Homo sapiens: one gene and its partner. The protein of the gene in region 2 purifies or fractionates together with the protein of the main gene of each other region. This does not show direct contact. Each region holds a gene or a part of one and is shown on either strand. Other genes may lie near its edges.

Region 1 (3,500 bases), on a different chromosome or scaffold from region 2:
TCTTTCATCTGTTCATTTAGAGGGAAAATACAAATAACAATTTCTAATTTGGGCCAGAATGTGGAGAAAATGGTGCCCTCAACCCCTGCTCATTCTGCAAACTGCCACAAAGGTTTTAGAGGGTATCTTTATAATGTGTATCAAGAACCGTTTTTTTCACCCAGTGGGTCCACTTCTCTAACTGGTTCAAGAATACTCTATTTATTTATTTATTTATTTACTTTTTAAAGATAGAGTCTTACTCTGTCACCCAGGCTGGAGTGCAGTGGCACAGTTACGGCTCACCACAACCTCAACTGCCCAGACTCAGGCGATCCTCCCACCTCAGCCTCCCAAGCAGCCAAGAATGCAGGTGTGTGCCACCTTTTTTTTTTTTTTTTTTTTTTTGGTAGAGATGGGGTCTTGCTATGTTGACTAGGCTGGTCTTAAATTCCTGGCCTCAAGCCATCCTCCCTCCTTAGCCTCCCAAAGTGCTGGGATTACAGGCATGAGCCACCATGTCTGGCTGACACCCTGTTTTACTAAAGGTACAAGTTCTTTGTATTTTTCCTCACTTTATGAAAGAAGTCCATTTCTAGCTTTCAGTGCATCAGTACGTTGGAAGAATCCAGAATGATTGACACTGCACTGGAACCCTCCCAGTTCCTCAGGAAATACTTTGACATATCTGTTTACACTTCCTGGAGTCAGGCTATTCTAACGGCATTCCTGCCCTGGTTCCTATTTGTGTAAATCAGTTCCTTCCCAAGAGGACTTCATTAATTCCCTCATCTCTTGCCACCCCTCTCTTTTCTAGGATCCTTTCTTATTTCCCATATAAAGATGCTGTGTTCAAGAAATTATAAAACACTGCATAAAGAAAAAAATGGGGCCGGGTGTGGTGGCTCACGCCCTGTAATCCCAGCACTTTAGGAGGCCAAGGCTGGCAGATCACTTGAGGCCAGGAGTTTGAGACCAGCCTGAGCAATACAGTGAAACCCTGTCTCTACCAAAAAAAAAAAAAAGAAATACAAAAGTTAGCCAGGCATGGTGGTACACTCCCAGCTACTCGGGAGGCTGAGACAGGAGAATCACTTAAATCCAGGAGGCGAAGGTTGCAGTGAGCCAAGATCACAGCACTGCACTCCAGCCTGGGCAACAGAGTGAGTTCCTGTCTCAGAAAACAAAAGTAAAAGAAAAAGTGAGAGGAAAAAAGAAACAAATAGGCATTAAGACATTTCTTGGCCATTCAAACCTACCTTGAGAAATCCATAGTACTAGAAATCAAAGAGTGGATGCTTACCAAAGAAATGGAGATTAATGTGCTCTCTGGAAGGAACTCTCTTGAGTGATAAAAAGCATTCTGTATCTTGATTGGGTTCTGGTGACTTGGGCATATAGGTCTGACAAAACTCCTACAATGGTATACTTAAAATCAGTGCATTTCACTGCAGGTAAAACGTTACCTCAGTAAGGTACTTCAGTAAGAATAAATTACTCTGAGCAACTTCTGGAAGCTATGCTGTCTGCAACTTCAAGATTTCACACACGACAAGTTAAAAAAGGCCAAAATGTTCCAGCCTAGTGGGCAGATGGGTTAACCCCACTGCAGCCTCGGCTCAAATGCTGCCTTCTCTGTGTGCTTGCCCTGACTGACCAGGTGGACTCAGGCTGCCTCCTCAATGCCATCACGATGCACCGGATGAACTTCAGTACCTGATGGCACTGCTGGGTTTGTCTGCACATCTGCTTTTCATGGAGGCTGCCTCTCTTTGAAGGTCCAGGTAAGGGCTAAGAATTTGGTGACTGAATCTATAAACCCGTCAAGTTTCTGGCACACAGTAGGCACATAGTAGGTATTTTTGAGATGACTAAATGTAAGTCCCCATGAGGGAAATCATCAAGTGGACGGCAGTAGAGTAAGGTGACTCGGGAAGAGGGTTGAGGCAGAAGAGGAAATGCTAAGTAAATAAACAAGTACACACTGGCATGCAGATGAAGACACATCCTGTAGCAGGTTCCAACCAAACAACTGCAACCAATAAAGCTTAAGACACTGAAGCAAGTTTCTGCTGGAAGAAGAAATGAGTTCTGGTCCTTAAAATCCTATTTTTTAATGTTGTTAAAGCTATAACTTTATTTGTACTTTTATTCAACAAGCATTTAGCAGGCACCATGCCAAACACTCAAGCAATAAATAAGATACGATTCCTGCCCTCAGTTAGCTCATAGACTAATATAGAAAAACGAATAGAACCACACAATGCAAAAAGAGAGATTTATGTAAGACAGGAGAGAAAGGAATGGGTGGGGCTGGAGGTTTGGCGATTTTGGGAAGGCTTCACATAAAGGTTGATTTTAGCTCAAGTATGGAAGAATGAAGAGGTGTTCACTAGGTTACAAGGAATAACAAGTATTCCATTCATACGAAAACATGGAGGTGACAAAACTGCATTCTGTGCAAGGAGAAACACAAGCAATGGATTAGGGAGCATTTGTTGCTCTACCATCAGCATCCATTTAACTGGTACAACTACCAGGGGAGATTAAGAGGAAAAAACTGAGACCTACAGGATTTAAATAGCAGAGCCCAGGCCAGGTGCGGTGGCTCACACCTGTAATCACTATGGTAAATCTTTGTTAAAAATTGTATTACAAAGCAATTCTTATGCTAGCTGCTGCAGCTAGCATAAGAATTGCTTTGTAACACTACAATTTTTAACAAATATTTACCATAGTGTCTTAATATCTGTTGATTGAAATTATATATAATTACTAAAAATACTTCCATTAGCACCAAAGGCAAAAAAGTTAAAAGGTGGTGAACAGCACATCCCCGAAGGATAAAACTTGGGGCAGGTGGAGAAACAGACCAATTAGAAGTGAGGAAGGACTCATATTCTAGTGCCAGACTTGGCAATGAGCTCAGGTTGGCATCCCTTACAGGGTGACAGCAATACTGAAAAAATCCAATCCAGAGATAACAGGAAGGGCAGGTGAGCAGAAAGGTGGTGAATTAAGTTAGCCTGTTCTGCTCCAGCCATAAAAATTACTATTGTATTTGAACCTCAATCTAGAGAGCAACATTAACTTACAGACTAAAAAACTGACCAACCAATGCAAAGTGCTACATACCCCAGTTTCAATCTCATTAGTATTTTGTCTGTTTACCACATGGCTTTCGGATGACCCACAACAGAGAGACAAAGGCAACTATTAGGCATAGAAAATTAAAAGGTACTGCAGAAGAGGCCTAAAATTAGAGTCCAGGCTGTATTTTCCACCACTTCATCAGCCACTGCGTAGCCTTGCTAGAATCAAGCTTCTCCTCTGCCTTTGCCTTGAAACCATTACTTGGTTTTAAACCAGTGTTTAATCATAAACCAGCCCTGCTACATTATTAATGTATCAAACAGCCTTTCCAACTATGTAATAATCCAATATCATTATGTTGAGCGATCTTAAAGGGTAGCTTTCCTACATTTGCTTTGAATTGCAAAATTAGCATGAGTAGACACACC
Region 2 (3,500 bases):
CCCCTGAGCAGATTGGAGTTTAAGCTCAGGTAGAATTTAGTCTTCATGAGTTAGAGGAGGCTGTTTCACCACTGAGGATGCAAGGGCTCAAGAATCTTATAGCCAGTGTTCATGGCTTTGGGATTCTGGGATAAGGTGAGTGTCTCCACTCCACTCCTTGCCCTTCAGCCTGCACAAGTGGACTCTAGTGGTTTTCTGCTTGCAAAAGTGGTGGGCTCAGCAAGGATACATTTCTGTGGCAGGATTGAAGACGGTTGTTTAGGTGAGGCAAGGCGCAAATGACCTTAGACCTTTCACCCTTATTAGATCCCTCTCAGACTCATCCTTGTCCCCATCACCATCCAAGGAATTAAAAAAATTACTCTTTTTCTCTCAACAAAGGCTAGTGCCCCTTCTCCCGCTCTGCTAATCCTGAGCCTGCCTCTCCTTTCTTGTGTTTTCTCAACAATGCCTTATTCCCCCTTTTCCCATCTAGTAGCATTCAGTACACAGTTTTAGGTAGCTGGACTTGAGAACCACAAGAATAGGGCATTGTCTTTGTTTGGTTACTTTCCCCGGTGCTCAGTGCTCAAGTAGGCACTTGTTGAATATTAATGGAATCATTGAAGAAACTGCAGGCATTTTCAGACATACTATACATAGTTGTGGTTTCCCATTCTGGCCGCTTTAAAAGCACTGCATCCCTCATTGCATGGGCTGGTTTAGGTTTAAAAGGATTCAGTGAACTCTTCCTCTCATTATTGTCCATCCAGGATTTGAGGTGCCTTTCTCCTTGAGCCCGGGTTTCCCCTTCAGTGTCAGGTGATACCATATTCACATCAAGGTCAGCTCCCTCACGGGCCTGGCTGGTGCTCCTGGGACCAAGGCCTGGTCATCCTGTGTGCCTGTGATCTGCTTTCTGGGTAGTGTCCAAACCTGACGGCCCTTCCCTGGAAGGATTCTCATGTCCCAGAAACACTGGACATAGACACCAAGGGACTGGTTTTATCATGTAGTAAATCCCCTTATCCCTCTGAGTCTGTTCCCCCACTTGTGAGTCAGGATCCTACATGCTTGTGCACTCATAGGGTTGTGATGGGTACTTTGTAAATTGTCAAATCCTAACCATATATCAGGTCTTAATCTTCATATCACAGCAGTTCATGTGGAAATGGAGGGGGAAGAAGCTAAAGACTTGCCAGCCAGAGGTTTCATGCGGTCTTCCCCTTTCCCCAGGAGGTTCACAGAAAGCGTAAAGAGGCTGATTTCACAGCTATTTTATCTGAAACAAAGCAATAGGAGCAATAATAGCAGCTAACATTTGAGTACTGTGCCAAGCTCTTTAAGATGAATTCTATTCAATCTTCTGGCAACCCAATGAGAGGTTAGTCTTTCAGTCCAGTTTCACTATGAGGTAGGTAGTTAAGTGACCTTCCCAAGGTCTCATGGCAAAAGGCAGAACAGAACGAGAGATCTGACCCAAGTCCCACACTCCCGCCTTCTCATGTTTCAGCAACCCAGGAGGAGAGAGCATGTGTCCTGCATCTTTTTAAAAAGGACCTGCCATTACTTAGAGCTTCACATTTATAGTGGGTGTGTCCTGAGTAAGCTCACACCTATGGCTGTGGAATCCCTTTTCAGAAAGGCAATCTCGATGACCTAGTGATCTGGCCTAGTCCGGCCAAGGTGCTGGGGGAAGGATGAGGTCATCTGGGGGCCTTTCCAACACAGTGACACTTGTGGGGACAGTTGTCTACACTGGAAGAAGCATTGGTGGTGCCTGTGGAAGTACCACAGAACATTGACGCAGGGTCTGTTTGTCTGTGCAGGTGCTACCTTTTTACCCACACTTAAGTGACGCAAAATGCCCTTCAATGGCGAGAAGCAGTGTGTGGGAGAGGACCAGCCAAGCGATTCTGATTCTTCCCGGTTTTCCGAAAGCATGGCTTCGCTCAGTGACTATGAATGCTCCAGGCAGAGCTTTGCAAGTGACTCCTCCAGCAAATCCAGCTCTCCTGCTTGTGAGCCGATGGGGGAGCAGGGGTTGTGGGTGGCAGGGGTACTTCTAGATATGTGTTGGATTTGAAAACTCAGAAACGCCTGAGAGCAACAGACTTCCCCTCCTTTCTAGATGCACCAGAATAGCACTGCAGAGGCACTGCAGCTTTCCGGGACACATTCTCAGAAATAGCCACTAAAGTTTACAACCTGCTGATTTTTATTTTGATCACTGCTTCCGATCTGTTTCGGTCTGATGATAAGTCAGGACTTCAACCCCATCTGTCTTTTCTCCCAAACAGCAGAAAGCCATTCCTTGAGATTACTTCTTAGATCTCCACTGAAGGATAAATTCAAATTGGTCTTTTCTGATTATTCCTGATTTACATTGAAGGAAACTGGCCTTCATTGAAAGGTCAGGAAGGAAGTGAAATAATCTAAAGGGTTTCATGTTGATTTCAAAAAAATATTGTGCAAATCACCCCAGGAAGGTACCCACAAGGAGAATTACTACATTAGGGGTGTGAGAAAGAGTTAAAAGAGAGGCCACAGCAAAAGGAGATATCTTTTTCCCGTTTTTGCATGTAGAAACTAGAGATGGGTAAAGCAGATGTGTTTGCCTTTTTTTTTTTAATTGGCACTTTATTTAGTAAATATAACAGCTTTAACTGGCAAAGCAAATGCAGGAAAAAGCAACTAATGTTTAATATGCTGAACTGTCCACTTCTTACAAATTGCTTCATTTGTATTTTAAATTTTTACATTCTCATTTTTTAAAACTTAGAAGATACATAAGAATAGAGAAAAGAAAACATTGCCTATGATATCACTCAAAGACGACAGCTGGCAGTGCTTTGCCGTATCTTTATCCTTCACATAGACATATGTGTGTATATGTGTGTGGACTCTTCTTGCTTAGTATTATAACTAAAACATTTACTCATGATTACATGTTTTTGAAACATTGGTTTTATGAATACTTATTACTTTACCAAGTGAATGTACGGTAAAATTAACCATTGATTAATCACTGGACATTTAGTTTCCATTTTTTTTTTTTTTTTTTTTTGCTGTTATAAATAGTGCTTTATGAACATCTTACTGCATGAAGCCTTTCTGGAAAGACTTTTGGATATCACTGGATTATTGGACCAAAGTATATAGACATTTTTAAGGAGAATCTTGAGTCAGACCTGGCAAAAGAAATTAACAGCAGCCACCCCAGGTTTCTGTGCCTTTTCTCACTCTTTATACTGTATGTGGTGTTGTTGCATCTGACACCAGGGTACCTAGGCATCCTGAAGAAGGGTTTTACCAATTCTGTGTATCACCTTTCTCTTCTTCCTCCTCTTTCCCTGATCCTCCTCCTCATCTTCTCCTAAAAATTAGGTAGCCAGGCGCAGTGGCTCACACCTGTAATCCCAGCACTTTGAGAGGCTGAGGCAGGCAAATCACCTGAGGTCAGGAGTTCAAGACCACCTGGCCAACATGGTGAAACCCCATCTCTACTAAAAATACAAAAA

What was found. The genes of interacting proteins can lie anywhere in the genome.
Region 1: the proteins of TCP11L2 (region 2) and LMO7 purify together in Homo sapiens (affinity purification with mass spectrometry; one large-scale study listed by BioGRID and IntAct). This does not show direct contact.

Annotation. Positions count from the first base shown.
Region 1 is NC_000013.11:75,639,330-75,642,829, reverse strand, and holds part of LMO7 (LIM domain only protein 7), read right to left. Parts: intron 1-3,500.
Region 2 is NC_000012.12:106,309,233-106,312,732, forward strand, and holds part of TCP11L2 (T-complex protein 11-like protein 2), read left to right. Parts: intron 1-1,808; 5' UTR 1,809-1,843; coding exon 1,844-2,000; intron 2,001-3,060; exon of another isoform or gene 3,061-3,202; intron 3,203-3,500. UniProt on the Homo sapiens protein: Promotes the migration of muscle-derived satellite cells (MDSCs) during differentiation throught interaction with FMNL2 and therefore may participate in microfilament assembly.